Linked DNA regions of Homo sapiens: region 2 is linked to region 1. A link means that fine-mapping ties the variant in region 1 to the expression of a gene that starts in the linked region. Tissue or cell type: unexposed skin. Region 1 holds a variant in brackets; the other region holds the start of a gene. All regions are shown on one strand. Distances are from middle to middle.

Region 1 (11,025 bases):
CTGTACTCCAGCCTAGGCGACAGAGCAAGACTCCGTCTCAGAAAAAAAAAAAAGTATCCAAGACCAAGAAAATGAAAATATACATTCACACAAAAACTTGTACAAGAATGTTTATAGCCGCATTATTCACAATAGCCAAAAAGTGCAAACAACCCAAATGTCCATCAGCTGATGAATAGATAAATGAAATGTGGTATATCCATACAATGGAATATTATTCATCAATAAAAAGGAATGTAGTACTAATACATGCTACAACACAGATAAACCCTGAAAACAGCATGCTAAGTGAAATAAGCTTGACATAAAAGGCCACAGATTGTGTGATTTCATTTATGTGACATATCAAGAGTAGGCAAAGCCATAGAGGGAGAGAGTCTCTATGGCTCGTATTTGCCAGGGGGTGGGCGGAAGGGGAAATGGGGAGAAGCTACTGTGGATTCGGGGTATTTTGGGGAGACGAGATAAAAATGTTCTGGAATTACTGGTGATGGTGGCACAACTTTACAAATATACTAAAAACACGAAATTTTACATTTTTTTTCTTGTAAATCTAGGTCTGAACAGATAATTGTATAATTTGGTAACTTGTTTTCCTCTCTTTTTTAGAGACAAGGTCTTTCTCTGTCACCCTAGCCAGAGTGTAGTGACGTGATCATAGCTCACTGTAACCCCAAACTCTTGGGCTCAAGCAATCCTCCTGTCTCAGCCTCCTGAGCAGCTAGGATTAAAGGCACTTGCCACCATCCCCAGCTAATTTTATTTATTTATTTATTTATTTATTTATTTATTTATTTATTTATTCATTCATTCATTTATTGGTAGAGACAGGGTCTCGCTGCATTGCCCAGGCTGGTCTCAAACTCCTGGCCTCAAGTGAGCCTCCGCCTAGGCATCCCAAAACCCTGGGATTGTTTTTTTTGAGACAGAGCTTCACTCTTCTTGCCTAGGCTGAAGTGCAATGGCGAGATCTTGGCTCACCGCAACCTCCACCTCCCGGGTTCAAGCAATTATCCTGCCTCAGCCTCCTGAGCAGCTGGGATTACAGGCATGCGCCACCATGCCCGGCTAATTTTGTATTTTTAGTAGAGATGGGGTTTCACCATGTTGGTCAGGCTGGTCTGGAAATCCTGACCTCAGGTGATCTGCCCGCCTCGGCCTCCCAAAGTACTGGGGATTACAGGTGTGAGCCACCACACCCAGCCTTTTTTTTTTTTTTTGAGACAGAGTCTTGCTCTGTCACCCAGGCTGGAGAGCAGTGGCACAATCTTGGCTCACTGCAACCTCCGCCTCCTGGGTTCAAGCGATTCTCTCGCCTCAGGCTCCCGAGTAGCTGGGATTACAAGCACACACCACCATGCCCGGCTAGTTTTTGTATTTTTAGTAGAGATGATGTTTCACCATATTGGACAGTCTGGTCTTGAACACCTGACCTCAGGTGATCTACCCACCTCGGCCTCCCAAAGTGTTGAGATCATAGGCGTGAGCCACCGTGCCTGGCCTCAAAACCCTGGGATTACAGGTGGGAACCACTGCATATGGCTGAGTTGTACACTTTAAAAAAAATTTTTTTTTAAATATGGAACACTTCACAAATTACAGTGTCATCTTTGAGCAAGGGTCATGCTAATTTTCTTTGTATCATTCCAATTTTAGTATATGTGCTGCTGAAGTGAGCATTGAATTGTATAATTTAAAAGGGTAAATTTTGTGGTATACTATACTAGTTTTATGGTATACCATAAAATTGTGGGTATACTTTATAAAAATAAAATTATGGTATGTAAAATGTTACGGTATACCATAAAATTATGGTATACTTTATGGTATACCATTAAATTGTACTCAGGCAGTATGAAAAACTCAGTATAAAAAAATTCATAGACCTGTACACCAACAGAAAAAATTTTACTGCATAATTTAAAAAATAAAAAAAAAATTAAGTCCTGTGTCCGAAAGGCAGGAGCCAGGTTCTCACCTGTTGTGTGTCACCTAAGTTGCCTCATACAATAAATGCTGAGGACAGTGGTTCCCGGACGTGGGTACATGTCCAGGAACCACCTGGTTGGGGGAGGTCTTTGAAAACTTCTGATGCCTGGCAACCGCCCCCAGGCATTCAGATTTAATTGGTCTGAGGTACAACCTGGGTACTGAGATGTTTTTTTAAAGCTTCCCAGGTGATTCTAACATGCAGCAAAATTTGAGAACCACGGGCTTAGCAAAAGGTTGATGAACAACCATTCTTGGGAGCCAAAAGCTAATCCCCGCCCCACCTTACCTCACTTTCACCTCAAGGCAATCAGATCAGATCTGTCCTTGGCAAAGAGAACAGCTACAGCCAATCCTGCTGTTCACCATGCCGGACAGAAGTAAATCAGAGCATTCTCTCCAGTTCCTTAAGGGCCACTGCTCTCTCTATAAACATGTGGTTGATGAGATCAGCAATTCTGAAGCAGGATCCATTCTACAAAGCATGGTTTCTTCCGTTCTCCCCAGGTTTTCTCTCTCTTGCTGTCCCCATTTGTAGCTGGGGTTGGGAAGTGGAGGAGAGAGAAAGTCACTGAATAAATACATTCTCTGTGTTCTCAATGAACAGACATGAAAGAAAAGAAAAATGGTAAATACATTCCTAGTAGGGTGAGCCTCAGTAGGTTTCTGGATTACCCTTCCCAGAAACATTCATATTTTCAAAGAAGACCTCCTGGTAAACGAAGACATGAGTCACTAGTAAGGAAGGTTTTGAGGGACAGGGTCTCTTTCCTTTAACTTCCCAGACACATGTCTGGACTGGTCCTGATTGTTTGACCTGTCTGTTTTCTTAGAACAGAGCATGAGATCCTAGCTAGCTGCATTCCATTCACTTAACAATTTGTTGTTCGAATTTATTTATTTCAGTTACGATTAGGTTTTGTCTGTGGCATTTATCGTCTTTCTATGCCAAGCAGTCTCACACTAACTTGAAAGCCCTTTTGTATTATCTACTGTGTTTCCTACAGGTGAGTCTTTTCACCTTGTCTTAGTAATTAAGACTTCTGGTTGTAGATTACAAAAACCATCTCAAGCAAGTTTAGGCAACAATGGGAGTTCTCAATGAGATTACAGGTGGAACCAGGAAAGTTAAGCCTCAGGGAGAGCAGGAATCCAGGCATACGTGGTCTTTATCAGGGAGTAGACACCAGGGCCCCACCCCAGTCAATGGGGAAGTCAGATCTCAGAGAATAATAATCATTGAACATGAATTGAATGTCTGCTATGTGCAGGAACATATATTATTGATAACATATTCTTATGTTATCAGTATGAGTTATATTACTATTGCTCTTCCCATTTTATAAATGAGGAAACTGAGGTCCACAGAAGATAAGCAATATGTTCAAGAGCTTCCAGGCCAGGTCCGGTGGCTCACACCTGTAATCCCAGCACTTTGGGAGGCCGAGGCAGGAGGATCACCTGAGCCTCAGAGTTTTGAGTCCAGCCTGGGCAACATAGGGAGACCTTATCTCTACAAAAAATTTAAAAAGTAACCAGGTGTGGTGGTGGTGCCTGTGGTCCCAGCTATTCAAGAGGCTGAGGTAGGAGAATCACTTGAGCCCGGGAGGTAGAGTCTGCAGTGAGCTGTGACTGTGCCACTGGACTGCAGCCTGGGTGGTGGAGAAAGACTCGGTCTCAAAAAAAAAAAAAGAAGTAGGGGGTGGGGGGCAGTTCCAGTTGGCACTGGAACTCAGGCAGTATGGTTTCAGAATTGACACACTTAGCCACCAGGTGAATGGTTCCCTTAAGAGTTGTACAGTGGGCAACCTGCACACCCATACCTGGCAGCCCTGACTATGGACTAGATCAGTGTTTCTCATCAGAGACACTGAGGACATTTGGAGCTAGATAATTTTTTGTGTAGGACTATCCCATCCTTCATTTACTATATGTGAGTGGTAATAACGCTCCCAATCATTGTGACAATCAAAAGCCAATCATTGTGACAATCAAAAGTATCAACCTCTTGAAACTTAAAAAAAAAAGAAAATGAAAAAAAAAAATTTAAGTATCAACCTCAGTTGAGAATCACTAGGATAAGTAGATAGCCCCAAATGATGTCTACATCTATTTTGTGAGCTCTTGATGACCAGTAGCAATGTGACTTCTTTTCCTCTTCCCACAGTAGTTGGCCCAGACAACTGTATACATACTCCACAAATGCTGGATGTGCATTGTCATTAGAGCCTGAAAGGATCCAGAGTCCTCAGCTTGGTGCTTCCCTACCCAGGATGATAGGGATGGAAACATGAGTCATGCATGGTAGATTCACTCCAACATCCTACGGGAAGACACAACAGTTTTCTCAGTTTTTCATTTGGTCCGCTGAACAAGCCAGCATGGTAGAAGGGCAGGAATTAGTCATTCCTATTATGAAAAAAGAATGTAACAGTAAAATTGTTTTTAATTTTGGCAAAGAAAAAAGTAACTATAAGCCTATCCTCTGCACAACTACCCTGTTTTGCATGTTACCTCCTGGCCCTGTCTACATGCTCTCTCTCAGTGTGCACGGTTATAGTCAAAGGGTATACCATCTGGGGTTCTGCTATTTTCACTAAACATTTATAAATGTTTTCCTTGTTGCTACATGGTCTTCATAATGAATGATTTTTTTAATGCCTGCATAGTGTTCCATTGCACAAATCTACTTTTATTTTATTATTATTATTATTGTAGAGGCAGGGTCTCACTCTGTCGCCCAGACTGAGTGCAGTGGCACAATCATAGCTCATTGTGTTATAGGATGGGAAGCCTTGACTGAGTTGTCCAGGTTTTTGGCGTGTTGAACAAAGAATTGAACAAAATGCACAGACAAAACAATAGAAGATGAAAGCATACATTTATTGAAGTGAAAGTGCACTCCACAGAGTGGCTCAAGAACCCTGATTGTAAAGTTTCTTGGGGTTTTCATTGAATTGAAAGAGCATGGTAACACCCCTAAGCACCCTTTAGCAGCGTCTGATAGGTTACACTCTATACAAATGAAAGATTCTGCCCAGGACCAATAAGACGCAGAACTCTGCCCAGGACCAATCAGAGGCATCCCACTTGTGACCTATGAGCAAATGAAGATTTCAGAATGGACCATTTACAGAAATTCCCATTTTTGACATAAGGGAGGGGAGGTTCAGAGAGAGAGGGGCCTTTGGCCCCTCATCACTTGGTCATGGAAAGGTGGGGTTTTTCTTTCAGTCCAATTCCAAGAAGGCAGCTGTGGGTTGGCCTTAGGTTTCCTGCCTCCAGACACTATTCTCCTGCCTCAATTGCAGCCTCAAACTCCTGGCCTCAAGCCATCCTCCAGCCTCAGCCTCTCAAAATGCTGGGATTTCAGGCATGAGCCACTGGATAGGCCCTTCCCTCTCTGAACCTCCCCTCCCTTATGTCAAAAACGGGAATTTCTGTAAATGGTCCATTCTGAAACCTTCATTTGCTCATAGGTCACAGATGGGATGCCTTTGATTGGTCCTGGGCAGAGCTCTGCCTCTTATTGGTCCTGGGCAGAATCCTTCATTTGTATAGAGTGTAACCTATCCAGTAGCATGAACCACACCCAGACTACTTTAATATTAAAAATCTTGGCTGGGTGCGGTGGCTCACGCCTGTAATCCCAGCACTTTGGGAGGCCGAGGCGGGGGGATCACCTGAGGTCAGGAGTTTGAGACCAGCCTGGCCAACATGGTGAAATCCTGTCTCTACTAAAAATACAAAATTAGCCAGGTGTGGTGGTGGGCACCTGTAGTCCTAGCTAGTTGGGAGGCTGAGGCAGGAGAATTGCTG[G/T]AACTTGGGAGGCAGAGGCTGTAGTGAGCTGTGATCATGCCACTGCACTCCAGCCTGGGTGACAGAGTGAGACTCCATTTCAAAAAAAAAAAAAAAACCGTCCATGTATGTGAAATTATACTTCAAGTTGGTTTGAATTTGCATTTCTGTGATTTAGTGCATTGCCATAGTGCTATTTATTATTTCCATTCTTTGTTATATTAATAAATTGTATATAAATTTTTTTTTTTAGATGGAGTCTCGCTCTGTCACCAGGGCTGGAGTGCAGTGGTGCGATCTCGGCTCACTGCAAGCTCCACCTCCTGGGTTCACGCCAATTCTCCTGCCTCAGCCTCCCGAGTAGCTTGGACCACAGGCGCCTGCTACCAGGCCCGGTAAATTTTTTTTTGTATTTTTAGTAGAGATGGGGTTTCACTGTGTTAGCCACGATGGTCTCGATTTCCTGACCTCGTGATATGCCCGTCTCAACCTCCCAAAGTGCTGGGATTACAGGCGTGAGCCACCGCACCTGGCCGTATATAATGTTTACAATGAGAGTTATATTCATTTTACGAATAAAAACTCTGAAGATCAGAGACATTAGGTAAAGTTGCTCAAGTTGACAGAATTGACTAAACTTAGAGTAAACATTTTCTAGCCGGGCACAGTGGTGTGCACCTGCAGTCTCAGCTACTCAGGCGTCTGAGGCCAGATCATTTGAGCACAGGAGTTTGAAACCAGCCTGGGCAACATAGCAAGACCCCCATCTCAAACAACAACAACAACAACAAAAAAACCCAAAATATTTTAGGCCTGCTTAGTCCAATGCCCTTGCCATCCCACCCCATATCCTCCCCCAGCTCAGACATGCTCAGTGATGAAACGAGTGTCTGCGGTTGCAATTCCCTCCCACAAGCAAATGAGGGGCTGATCCAAAGTGCTTCTAAACTCTGTAGTTACTGCTTGCCTGGTTCCAAGCAATCAGCCCAGGTCCAAAGATAAACACAAAGGCAGCCCCAGAAAGGATCCTGGCACCTCCGGCCCCCTTCTGGCCTCTTCTGCTCTAGGTCTTGTAGAATGAATAAGAGAGTCTGAATATTTCACCTCCAGTAATTTCCTTAAGGTAGTAATTCCTAGACCTGGCTGCTTCCATGAGTCCCTTGCAAGAACTCTTCCACAGATTCTGGCCTGTGGAATCGGGATCTCCAGGGACCAGGGCTTGATGATCTATAGTTTTTAACACCCTCCAATTAATTATGAGGCTCACCTAGGTTTAGGACCCACTGCCTTAGAGTTTATGAAATCACCTAGGCAAGCTTGTCAAAATGCAGATTCCCAGCCTACCAGGGATCCGGTGTAGGGCCATGGAATCTGCATTCCAACAATCATGATGTCCACAGTCCACACAAAGGGGACCATCAAGGACCAGGAAAGAGCCTCTGCAAAAAGCAAATAAATAAATAAAATAATAATAATAAACAAAAAAATAACTCGTTGGCTTGAAAGTAGGGTAAACTTTTTTTTTTTTTTTTTTTTTTTTGAGGTGGAGTCTGGCTCTGTCGCCTAAGCTGGAGTGCAGTGGCTCAGTCTCGGCTCACTGCAAGCTCCGCCTCCTGGGTTTTCAAGCCATTCTCCTGCCTCATCCTCCCGAGTAGCTGCGACTACAGGCGCCCACCACCACGCCCAGCTAATTTTTTGTATTTTTAGTAGAGATGGGGTTTCACCGTGTTAGCCAGGATGGTCTCGATCTCCTGACCTCGTGATCTGCCCCCCTCGGCCTCCCAAAGTGCTGGGATTACAGGCGTGAGCCACCGCGCCCGGCCAATAATTTTTTCTTTTTTTTTTTAAAGAGCCTCTGCAGCCACCATTTTTCTGATTTAGTTAAAATGTAGACAAGCTTCAATTGGAAATGGCTTTTGCCAGAGGAACCAACTAGACTTTCTATAAATCCGGTTTTCTCATCCAGCTCTAAAGCATTAGCATAAAAGCAATGGAGAGAGAAGGAAAAGGAGAACCTCTGCCTCCCAAGTAGAAGGGGGGCTGCGGTGGACAGCATGGCAGGTGGTGTTTATCTGCAATCATGGGCTATTCTTCAACTCCCAAACAGCCTCTTAGCTGCAAATTGTTCATCAGCATCATCACTTAGCCATTCATCCCAGGAACTGATGGCAGCAACTTAAGTTGCCTTATTTTTCCCTTTCCCAAATTGAACTCCTAAAGAGCCAGCAGAGACTGGAAGCCACACAAAGCACCACCTCCTGTGTGACAGGACACACCCCCCATCCCTGGGGGTGGACCATCAGCCCTTGGACTTAAAACAAAGGAGTCAGGTTTGTTTTCTAAGGCAAAAATCACAAAGACATTTTTACATAAGTTCCAAAATACATTTCCCTTTACTGGAGGTCGGAAAAAGAGGATATTTAACTTCAGACTTATAGTAATCTTCCTACTTTCTCCACTGAATACTTATCTGTGAGCAGGGCTCTGGGGTCTCAGCTTGTATCCAATAACTTGACAGACAGGGTTTGCTTCTGAAGCAAGTAATTTGTTTTATCTGACTGTCCCTTGGGGCAGTTTCACAGCATGTCAAAAGCCAGCACCTTGGAGACAAAGGACACATGTATCTTTGCTTCATGATCTGCAAACACCGGTTTTGTGGTGACAAAAACCATTAAATTAAGATGCCATGGGATTAAAATTACAGTTAAAAATATTTTAAAGTATATATCGGCTGGGCACGGTGGCTCACGCCTGTAATTCCAGCACTTTGGGAGGCCAAGGAGGGCGGACCACGAGGTCAAGAGATCGAGACCATCCTGGCCAACCTGGTGAAACCCTGTCTCTACTAAAAATACAAAAATTAGCTGGGCATGGTGACGCGTGCCTGTAGTCCCAGTACTCGGGGGGCTGAGGCGAAAGAATTGCTTGAACCCGGGAGGCAGAGGTTGCAGTGAGCCAAGATCATGCCACTGCACTCCAGCCTGGCGACAAAGTGAGACTCCGTGTCAAAAAAAAAAAAAAAAAGTATATTGACAAAGTATATTGACAAAGATTAAAAGGAATTTTAATACCCAGTTTTGGCAAAGATGCAAGAAGTGGGCAGCCCTCTCCTGTACTTCCTGAAGGGCCACTGGGCAATTTGAGTCGCAAGCTCTAAAAATTAGGCAAAACCCATGGCCCATCAATACACTTTTAGAAATTTATCTTGGGGGTGGACAGGGGAGACAAAGATGCACAGATATTACTTGCAGTGATTCTCTGTAATATTAAAAAATGGAAATGAACTAAATATTCAAGGTTAAGAGAATAAAAATTGCAGAGTAGACATACAATGGGATCTTAGTGAGCTCTAAAAAAGAAACCGTGCTATAAGACAGGAGTCAGGAAACACACCCACAAGCCAAATGAATGTCCATCCTGTTTTTGTAAATAAAGTTTTATTGAAACACAGCCACACTCATTTGTTTATGTGTTGTCTATGGCTGTTTTCATGCTAGAACAACAGAGTTGCAACAAACTGTATGGCCCACAAAGCCTGAAACATTTGCTACCTAGACCTTTATAGAAAAAGCTTGCCAACTAATATTCAATATTCTTGCTATAGAAGAATATTTACTAACAAAGGCAAATGTTCATGATATATTGCTAAGTGAAGATAAAAAATCAGGGTTGGGCGCAGTGGTTCACACCTGTAATCCCAGCATTTTGGGAGGCCGAGACAGGAAGATCACTTGAGCCCAGGAGTTTTAGACCACCCCATCTCTACAAAAAATAAAAAATTAGCTGGGTGTGGTGGCCTGTGCTACTTGGGAGGCTGAGGTGGGAAGATAGCTTGAGCCCAGGAGGTGGAGGTTGCAGTGAGCCAAGATCGCACCACTGCACTCCAGCCTGGATGACAGAGCCAGACCCTGTCTCAAAAACAAACAAACAAACAAACAAACAAAAAAACAAAAAAAAAAACACAAGCCATCGCATAATGCCATTTTGTTATGCATAGAAATAAAACTGAAAGAGGCTGGGCATGGTGGCTCCTGCCTGTAATCCCAACATTGTGGGAGGCCGAGGAGGGCGGATGACCCGAGGTCAGGAGTTCAAGACCAGCCTGGCCAACATGGCGAAACCCCTCCTTTACTAAAAATATACAAATGAGTGGGGCATGGTGGTGCATGCCTGTAATCCCAGCTACTTGGGGGGCTGAGGCAGGAGAATCCTTGAACCTAGGAGGTGGAGGTTGCAGTGAGACAAGATCATGTCATTGCACTCCAGCCTGAATGACAGAGCAAGACACTATCTCAAAAATAAATAAATAAATAAATAAGGATGGGCACGGTGGCTCACGCCTGTAATCCCAGGACTTTGGGAGGCTGAAGTGGGCAGATCTCCTGAGTTCGGGAGTTCGAGACAAGCCTGACTAACATGGAGAAACCCCTTCTCTATTAAAGATACAAAATTAGCTGGGTGTGGTGGCGCATGCCTGTAATCCCAGCTACTCAGGAAGCTGAGGCAAGAGAATCACTTGAATCCGGGAGGCGGAGGTTGCAGTGAGCTGAGATGGTGCCATTGTACTCCAGCCTGGGCAACAGAGGGAAACTCTCAAAAAAACACAACAAAACAAAAAACAAAGCATTTTTTTTTTTGAGACGGAGTCTCGCTTTGTCACCCACGCTGGAGTGCAGGGGCGCGATCTCGGCTCACTGCAAGCTCCACCTCCTGGGTTCACGCAATTCTCCTGCCTCAGCCTCCAGAGTAGCTGGGACCACAGGTGCCCGCCACCACGCCCGACTAATTTTTTGTATTTTTAGTAGGGATGGGGTTTCACCGTGTTAGCCAGGATGATCTCAATCTCTTGACCTTGTGATCTGCCCACCTCGGCCTCCCAAAGTGCTGGGATTACAGGCATGAGCCACCACGCCTGGCCCAAAACAAAATATTAATAAAAATATGTAAGCACAGAACAGTGGCCCTCAATCAAGCTTCACTTTAGAATCACCTGGGGAGCTTTTATATAGATGTCAGAACCCCTGGAGGTGCAGCTCAGGAATCTGATTTTTAAAACTCACAAATGCAACACAAAAACTCCAAATGAGTCCAGGAATTTGGCTGCACATTAGAATCACCTAGGGAGTGTTTAAATATCCCAGAGTCCAATCTGGCACCAAGATTGATTAAATCAAAATGTCTATGGCTGGACCCAGGCAATGGTATTTTCTAAAGCTCACCAGGTAATCCTAACTTGTA
Region 2 (9,714 bases), 43 kb after region 1:
CCAGCACTTTGGGAGGCTGAGGCAGGCAAATCACTTGAAGTCAGGAGTTCAGGACCAGGCTGATCAACGTGGCGAAACCCCATCTCTACTAAAGATACAGAAATTACCCAGGCATGGTGGTGCGTGACTGTAATCCCAGCTACTTGGGAGGCTGAGACATGGGAATTACTTGAACCGGGGAGGTGGAGGTTGCAGCAAGCCAAGATCGCACCGCTGCACTCCAGCCTGGGTAACAGAGGAGGAAAAAAAAAAAAAAAAAACGGCCTCTACTCTGGAACTCTGGGTCTACAGCAGGTTTCCCTCAACTTTACAGGCAACTAGCCTCAGCCACACCACTCTTGGCCCCCAAGGAAGAGCTCCTCAGCACCCATGCCAGGGTCTCGAAGAAATCCTACTTAATAGAGAAGCCAGTACAGGGCAAATATAACCTCACTCTCCATCCTGATCACACCCTCATTCCTTGCCCTTGCCCTGAGTTCAAAATGCAGAATCTCTGGGCAGGACTGGAGAGTGAGAGGTTCTCTCTCCCTCTCTCATCCTGCAGATAGGAAGTGATCCCTTCCCTTCCAGCTCTCCAGTCCCTTTGATGAGCCAAGGCAGGAGGATTATTCCAAAGCTCCTGACTCTGACCCGGCCACAATTTGTGGCTTTCTACTCAGAATTCCCCAGTGTTCCCCTCTCCCCACTACTCTGGCAGAGCAGTTGGCTTCTCCGTCTCTCTCTGACACAAGCCCCCATCTTCCTTTAGTGCCACCAGCTGGACAGTCAGGCCAGAGGGACTGGGGAAGAGCCTGGGACATTCAAAGGCCTCCTGTGGACCATGATCCCTGACCGCCCCCAGGGCTGGGCATGGGGAAGCAGAAGATACCTGTTTTAAGCAGGTAGGGAAGGAGTGTGGTTGGAAGAGCCAGAATCAGGAGCTGACATCTTGGAGGCCCCTCTGCTAGGGATTGGGGAACACCTCTGCACCTCTTCCCCCAAATCTGGAGACCTAAGTACACCAAGTGACAAGAAATGAAAATGTATAATTGAAGATTTTAAGACAAAAGAGCAGAATTTGGGTGGGGTGGGGAGGAAAGATCTCCTGGCAGGACAGAGGGTCAGTTCTGGCCAGTTCCTTTCCAGCCTGGACTGGGGCCTCAACCTGTCCTTGGGCTATAGGACTGTGCCCCAAAAAGACTGGGAGAGGAGTCGCAGGTGTGTCTGGGGGAGGGGCAGGTAGCACATGTTCCCAGCAGAACCAGCCCAGCAGTTCTGTCAAGCAGGCCCTAGCACTGACGCACACTTGGGCACCCTTCCGGATCAATGCACACTCACCCCAATCCTGCCAGCTACAGGGATGGGGAGGGGACCAAATCTGAGCTTCTGGCAGCGCTGGGTAGGAAGAAGCAAGTTCTTTAGGAAACCTTCCCCAGAAGTGGGGGTTGCCGGCACCTTCTCTTTCTCCCCAGGTCCTTTCATCTGATTCCGGAGAAGAGGAGACAGAATTGGGGAGAAGCAGGGTGTGAACGCTGAACCTGCTCTGGGGATTGTGTGTTTGCACAAAAGGTGGCAGGGGGTGGCTGGAGGGCTCGACAACTGGAAAGAATTGTGCTTGTTTTTTTTCTTTTTTAGAGACATGGTCTCCCTATGTTGCCCAGGCTGGTCTTGAACTCCTGGGCCCAAGCCATCCTCCTGCCTCAGCCTCCCAAAGTGCTGGGATTACAGGCGTGAGCCACTGTGCCCGGCCTTGTGCTTAGTTCTTACTCACTGCTCCCACCCAGAAGATTAAGAGGATCTAAGGGTTCTGTTATCAGACATAGCTGGCCCTGGTGCTGGTGAGTAGGGGCACTCAAGCCCTTGTAATATTAGCATTTTATTCTTACAATCACCACAAATACTGGGGGCTTATGTCTTCCCCCTTCTATCTTGGAGTCTGGAGGGTGTATGTCCAGCAGTCCTCTCTGCCACCAAGCACAAACAGCTACTACTTCTGCCCCTCTCGTGAGAAGAGCTACCATTCCCAGAGCTGGAAAACTCATGGCTTAGTCACCAGGGCCAGGCTGGCTCAATCCAGCCCAGGCCTCCCTAGCACCAGCCGCTGCCATCATGCCAGTGAGCCAGTCAGCAGGATTGAGTACACAGAGGTGACTTAAGGCCAGGGAGGAATTACTTTCCACTCTCACCACATCTTACAAGGAGGAAAAAAATCAAACCAACCTAAGACTGGGGAAGTGGGGAGGATGGGAACAGAATGGCTCTTTGAGGACTTACCTATATAGACTTAGGTGTCACCAAGGTCAAGAACCTAGGAGTAGCTCAGACTAGCAAAATTTGAAGTTAAATCTGCAAGGAGCAGTTGATATAAGGGACAAGTAAGACCCAGAGGATGAGGGGAGGGGTGTTAAATCAGAGAAAAAGGAAGTGACCCCACCCAAAAAACTACAGAGATCAGGCAATAGCTTGAGGGGTTTTCCACTCCCCCCTATAATTTTCACAAGCCATCCCGTAACACACAATCTAATTTTTATAAGTGCTTGCTTTGCAAATTCAGCTTCAAGATAAATCTCCCTCCCCCTGCGCCACAACCCCATATAGAAATCTTGAATTGTCTCTGGGGCAAGATAAGGAGAGGAAAATGCCCCAGACCAAGGTAAGAGCTACAGTTATCAGTCTTTAATAACTTACAGGCAAATGCTAAAAAATAGTTAATAACAATAATACAGAGGACACACACAGCTTATAAAAAGGGTCATGGATCTACAAATGTGGGGAGGGGTTCTTGGCACTTTCACAGACACAAAAATAAAAACTATGTGACTGGTATTCCTAGAAAAGCAGCCTGGGGAGACTCCCCAGTTGGGGGACAGAGGAAGGGGAGATAGTTATTTCATCCCAAACACATTCTCCAAGTCACTTCCATCCCCCCGCCCCCAAACACATCCAATTAAAAATTTTTAGCCAGAGAAGAAAAATAAGAAACAGGGTCGAGGTAGAGTCACAGTTTACATTTACGTCTCCACAGTCCTGCAGCGCCCACTTCTCCAGAGAGGATGAGAGAGATATGCAAAGACATCCCATCTCCCATCCCCACCCCAGTGTGGCACCAAAACGGGACACCCCATGCTCCTCTCTCCTTCATTGAGGTGGACAGGTCCTGCACCCCAGTCTGACTGAGAGGTCACAGGCTGGTCCCACCCTGCTGTCCAAGTGTGCAGACCCCTACTAGGTGGGAGGAAAGGGAGGGGGGGCTTGGGTCACCGTCTCTTCTTGCCACCCCGAGCTGCCTTCTTCCTCTTGAGGATCATCTCATAGAGGCGCTCAAGGCCCTGCTGCAGGCCCAGACCGTCCACAGCGCTGCAGCCTTGCACATGAGTGAGAGTGGCGGCTGCTAGCTCTCGGACTGCCAGCCTCTTCTCCACCTCAGCAGCGCTCAGTGCCCCGGGCTGGTCCTGCTTGTTGGCCAGCACCAGCACTGGCACGCCCTGGTTGTCCGAGGCCCGGCTGATTCGGTGCAACTCCACCTTGGCTTCCTCCAGCCGCTCAGCCTCCGCAGCGTCCACCACAAACACTAGACCGTCTGTCCGGCGGGTATAAGAGCGCCACAGTGGTCGCAGCTTCTCCTGCCCCCCGACGTCCCACACTTGGAAGGTGATGCCACGCGATCCCCCGAGGGGCACCCGGATCTTCTCGGTGTTGAAGCCTTTGGTGGGGACACTCTGGACAAACTCCTTGAACTTGAGGCGGTAAAGGAGGGAGGTCTTTCCAGCAGAGTCCAGCCCAATGACCACGACATGCAGGGCTTGGAAGTGGGGCAAGAAGGAGGAGGCAGTGGGCGCCATCTCAGTCAAGTGGTTCCCCATAGTGAGCTAAGGCGCCTAGTAGAGGCAGGGAGGCCTTGAAATTGAAGGTTCCAGGGAGCACAGCTGGGTTATCTGAACCAAGAAAAGGTCATGGGAGAAAAAGGAGACGTTTAATAATACACACAAGATTTGCAACTTCTTGATCCCTTCCTAAATCACCCTCCCATCCTTCATTTTTAAAATTCCTTTCCTTTTTTTTTTTTTTTTTAAGGCATAACAGAGGTGTTCCCCCACTCCCTGGGGGGGTCGTGAGGGGGGCGATGGGACCTAGAGAGACTCCCAGGTCCTGGGCCACTCAAGTGGGGGGTGAGGGCTCGATCCATGGACAGTGGGCTTCTAGAGCCTCTTCTCAGAGCTTATGGCGCCATCCCCCAGGCAAGATCCCCGAGGGACGGGGGAAGTCGACAGTGCCCCCAAACTAAGAGCTAGGGTGCAGACGCTGAGACCGGAGATTGAGTCCGGCTCCCACCCGCCCTCCGCAGCCCCAAGCCGTTGACACGGTGCCCTTCCTTACTCCGCGACCCTCGCCCCACCGCCCCGCGACACTCTCCTGCCCGCCCGCCCTCCTCCGATGGCCGACCCCAGCTCCAGCGGCCCGGCACCGGGACCGCCTCAGCACGGTCTGCAGGGTCCGTTTACCTCTCGTGAGCCGCGCTCTCCTCGAGCCTTTCCCGGTGAAACACCGCAGCCGCCCCGCGAGACCCCCGCAGACACCCACCGCGCCTCCAACCGCTGCCTCTGCAGAGCCTGCCTAGGGTTCGGCCTTAAAAACCCGCGTGTGACGTCACAAGGCGCGGGACAATCAGCGGCGGCGGGGCGGAGCGTGGAGCTACGGGCGCTGCAGCCCCCACCATACGCGGAGGGGCGTTTGCTTAATCCGTGGCTGCTCTATTTGACCTTTTCTACCACACTCTAATATTTGGAATTAAACTTGGAATTAATGCAGAATGGAGGGTGGGAGGGGCGAAAGGAACGTGCCTGGCAACGTTTGACTCGGGAGGAAAGATATGAATACCCTAATATTCTCACTACCATCGCATCCCCCTCCACCAGGCCGAGATACCACCCCACATGGACACTCCTTCGGCCAAAGGATCTACTCGGAGAGGCTGACAAGTCTTTCTCCTTTATCTTTCATAATTCAATTGTCAAACCTAAGGTGAACCTGGAGCCCCATAAAACAGCTGCTTCATAGTGCTAAGCCCATTATCTGCAATAGCCTGTTAGGGACTGTTGTCTGCCTTTTACAGATACACAAAGCCCTGAAGGGTTAAATGACCTATTTGAGGTTACACTCAACAGTATGTTTAGGCGCAGTGGATCATACCTGTAAACTCAGCACTTTGGGAGGCTGAGGCAGGCACATCACTTAAGCTCAGGAGTTCCACCAGCCTGGACAACAGGGTGAAACCCCATCAGTAATAAAAAGACAAAAATTAGCCGGGCGTGGTGGCGGGTGCCTGTAATCCCAGCTACTCGGGAGGCTGAGGCAGGAGAATCGCTTGAACCCGGGAGGCGGAGGTTGCAGTAAGCTGAGATAGCGCCACTGCATTCCAGCCTGGGCGACAGAGCAAGACTCTGTCTCAAAACAAAGCAAACAAAAAAAAAAAACCAGTGTGTTTATTGGGCTGGGCACGGTAGCTCACGCCTGTAATACCAGCATTTTGGGAGGCCGATGTGGGCGAAGCACCTGAGGTCAGGAGTTCGAGACCAGCCTGGCCAACATGGTGAAACCCCGTCTCTACTAAAAATACAAAAATTAGCTGGGTGTGGTGGCGGGCGCCTGTAATTGCAACTATTCGGGAGGCTGAGGCAGGAGAATCACTTGAACCCGGGAGGCGGAGGTTGCAGTGAGCTGAGATCACACCATTGCACTCCAGCCTGGGCAACAGAGCAAGACTCTGTCTCAAAAAAAACAAAAACAAAACAAAACAAAACAAAAAACACTGTGTTTATTGACCTCATTCATACTGTGTGCTCTGAATGAGACAGAGAGATGGTGGAGAAATAGAGGATGTCTCGGCTGTAGAATCAGGCCTCAAAGGGCTTAAGACTTAAGACTGGCAATGACAGAATGAGACAGCACATGTATTGGGTCTTTGTAAATCATGAGATAGCACTTGTAGGATTTCAGAGAAGAGAGAGAATGTGTCAACTGGAAGCTTCTGAAAAGGTTTATAGACGTTCTTTAGCCCTATCTAGGACTGGTTAGGAGGGGCACAGGAATGAGTAGGGTCTCCCCAGCCACTGCAGCCTGCTACAGTCTGGGCAGCCCTGAAAGGAAGGAGATGTCACAAAGGGCAGTGTGACCAAAAGGACAACAGCAATTAGGTGGGGGAGAGAAGAGGGCCAATCAAAGAAGAATGAAATTGTAAATTGTAACTTTATCTATTTATTTATTTATTTATTTATTTATTTATTTTTGAGACAGAGTTTTGCTCTTGTTACCCAGGCTGGTGTCCAATGGTGCGATCTCGGCTCACTGCAACCTCCACCTCCCAGGTTCAAGCAATTCTCCTGCCTCAGCCTCCCGAGTAGCTGGGATTATAGGCATGTGCCACCACGCCCGGCTAATTTTGTACTTTTAGTACAGACAGGATTTCTCCATGTTGGTCAGGCTGGTCTCGAACTCCCGATCTCAGGTGATCCGCCCGCCTCGACCTCCCAAAGTGTTGGGATTTACAGGCGTGGATTATTTTATTTATTGTGTAATTCAGTATTAATCTTTTTAAGGGCTATGTGTGAGAGGGATTGGAAAAAGGAGAAGGGAAGTCATTGCCAGACAGCACGGCCCAGCCTTTTCCTGCCCACCCTCCTCAATCAAGTGCTGATAAATAAGCTTCCCATCTGTTTGTCACCAGTGTGCTTTGCCACCTCCTTTTTCTCCCCTCCACTACAAAACCAGCCACCTGGTTTCCCCAGCAATGCAGGGAGCCTCCCCAAATCCCTAAAGACCTTAGGAAATTAGTCTAAGATTAAGACCTTAGGAAATTAGTTTGTTACACCCCAAGTTGGAGGGTGACAGGTTGCAGCAGCAGCTAACGTACAGGAGACAGACCTGAGCATGGTGAAGTTAGGAGAGGGGAAGACGGAGCAGGCCCAGCGGTTGAGAACCACTGCACTGTTGAGTGGCCACTGCATGCCAGGCTCTGGTCTAGGAACTTTGCTTACTTTTCCTTTTTTAATACACAAGTCAAGCCCATGAAGTAAGTATGGTTAGTCTAAAAAGAAGAAACTGAAGCACAGAAAGGTTAGGTAATTTGTTGAAGGTCATCCAGCTAGAAACTGGCCAAACCTGGCTTTGAACAAATGTTACAATGGCTATGAGACTGAAAACACACAAAAACTGAAAATACACAAGTTGTCTTGTTTCTTCCACAATCTTTGAAGCTTCTTTAACATGGCTCCTATAATCTGTCTTGGGACTCACATCCAAGACAGAAATTGTCACTTATCTGATAAAGGAAATGAAACTGACAATCCTACCCCACCCTTCCGTCTTTCATGTTTGCCAGAGAAGGTGTTAATGAACAAATGGGAAGGAGAAGGTGGGGCTGGGGAGGGGTAAAAAAAGGGGCCCAGCTCGTCCAGGTAGCACTAAGCTATGGGCTTACACTAATCCCTGCAGAGAACATCTGAACATTTGTACATTAAGCAATCATTTTTTTTTGAACGATACAGAAATTAGCATGGCCCCGTGCAAGGATGACTTGCAAATTCATGAAGCATTCCCTATTTTTTCAAAATTAAAATAAAAATAATTTTTTTTTTTTTTGAGACGGAGTCTCGCTGTTTTGCCCAGGGCGGACTGCAGTGGCGCTATCTCGGCTCACTGCAAGCTCCACTTCCCGGGTTCATGCCATTCTCCTGCCTCAGCCTCCCGAGTAGCTGGAACTACAGGTGCCCGCCACCGCGCCCAGCTAATTTTTAGTATTTTTAGTAGAGACGGAGTTTCACCGTGTTAGCCAAGATGGTCTCAATCTCCTGACCTCGTGATCCGCCCGCCTCGGCCTCCCAAAGTGCCGGGATTACAGGCATGAGCCACCGCGCCCGGCCTTTTTTTTTTTTTTTTAAAGACAAGGTCTCACTCTGTCACCCAGGCTGGAGTGCAGTGGCGAGACCATAGCTTACTGCAGCCTTGAACTCTTCGGTTCAAGAGATCCTCCGCCTCAGACTCCTGAGTAGCTGGGATTACAGGTGCGTGCCACCACATGTGGCTGGAGAACTACTTTAGATTGGTGGAAGAGTGTGCAGGAGAAAGTTTCAAAGCGGCGACGCTGAGCCAAGGTTTAAGTGACACTGAGTCAGATAAGCATCATTCTTCCTCAGAGCTGTCTCCTCCACCAGACTACGTGATCAAGGGCAGCAGCTGGTTCTTATCTGTAGCTCTACCATGCCCAGCACCATGCCTGGCACACATAGGCAGTCAGAAAATCTTGTGTGAATTAATGAATGCATGATGGAATAAATGTACTCAGAGGGCTCCCTGAGTAGGAGAACCAAACCTCCACCCTTAGCGTGGGAGTTTCCCAGCCTGGGGTCCTTGGGCCCTTGGGCCCTTGGGGGTTCTGTTGATACTGGGTTGGCCAGGAATTCCTACAAACCCTGCATTTCTAGGCAGTGTCTGAGTAGTATAGAACTCTCAGGCCTTTATTGGAGAGGAGGAACTTAAAGGAGAAAAACAAGGACCAAAAATGGGGATGACACTGGAGAGACAGGTTGCCCTTAGGACATGCTGGAACACCAGACTGAGATTCAGTGCGTGAGTCCCATCCTTCCATTCCTCACTAGTAGAGTGACTTGAAAAAGTAAAAAGCCACTTCCGGCCGGGCCCAGTGGCTCGCGCCTATAATGCCAACACTTTGGGTGGCTGAGGCGGATGGATCACCTGAAGTTAGGAGTTCAAGACCAGCCTGGCCAACATGTTGAAACCTCGTCTCTACTAAAAATACAAAAAAATTAGCAGGGCGTGGTGGCGCACGCCTGTAGTCCCAGCTACTCCGGAGGCTGAAGCAGGAGAATAGCTGGAACCGGGAAGGCGGAGGTTGCAGTGAGCCGAATTGCGCCACTGCACTCCAGCCTGGGCGACAGAGCGAGACTCCGTCTCAAAAAAAAGTAACTTCCCCACCTGGGAGCCTCGGTTTCCTCATCCTGTAATGAGGGGCTTTAGATGTCTCCAGGTCGTTTCCCCATAACAGCCCATGCTCTGAAGTAAGGGAGGGTAGGAGGATGGGTGGAGCTCTTCTAGGAAGTGGCTGAGAACATCCTTGTCTCTGCAGCATCTTAACCAAGTACTTGTCTTCGTGAACAAACGAGGGAAAGAGGAGTCTGCAGGAGTAGGGGGTGGGGTGGGGGAATGGACGCCACGGAGCAGTTACCAGCTCGGCAATCACGAAGGCCCATTTTTCAAATCCCAGTTCTGTTTCCTCATGAACAAAATTGAGAAAACCCAACCTATCGCTAAGTATGAGTGTGGGGCAAAAATGTGCGAAAGGGCCCCAAAGATACCCTTCTCCCCAACCAGGAACTCTTTCCCTGGCAACCACCCCAAAATCAAGGCCTAGGGTGGAGCCAGGGGCTAGAAATAAGTAGATGCTGCCCCCTGGTGGATGTATTTGTCACCGCCTGATTGGTGAAGAAAAGCGGAGTCTTAGTGGATGAAGTTATTCAGGTTCCTTTGTCAGCTCCCGAAGTCTCCTTTCAGACAGGGCCTTTCCTACAGTTTCAGGTTGGAGGTAGAAAATACACCCTCTTCAAGTTTTTAGTGTGTGTGAGATACCAAATTAAAATGAACACTATTTGAGCAGAAACTCTAATTTTGATGACATTTTCCATGTATTTACAGAGGGTCTAATAGGTCCAGGGAACACTG

Evidence for each region. PIP is the estimated chance that this variant, and not a neighbour inherited with it, causes the effect.
Region 2: ARL4D starts here. The variant in region 1 is fine-mapped to the expression of ARL4D in unexposed skin (GTEx, PIP 0.99).

What each region holds. Positions count from the first base shown.
Region 1 is chr17:43,436,162-43,447,186 of GRCh38, reverse strand. MIR2117HG (MIR2117 host gene) reads right to left here and starts at 2,480. Exons shown (of 2, transcript NR_146952.1): 1 at 2,279-2,480. It overlaps MIR2117 (microRNA 2117), which reads right to left and starts at 2,381; the gene lies at 2,302-2,381. It also overlaps the pseudogene RNU6-406P. RefSeq lists an enhancer at 7,757-8,521. The variant G/T (reference allele first, on the strand shown) is at 5,809.
Region 2 is chr17:43,393,861-43,403,574 of GRCh38, reverse strand. ARL4D (ARF like GTPase 4D) reads right to left here and starts at 4,582. Exons shown (of 2, transcript NM_001661.4): 1 at 4,482-4,582; 2 at 2,438-3,914. The coding sequence starts at 3,842. The coding sequence ends at 3,237. It also overlaps the pseudogene RNU6-1137P. RefSeq lists an enhancer at 3,955-4,458.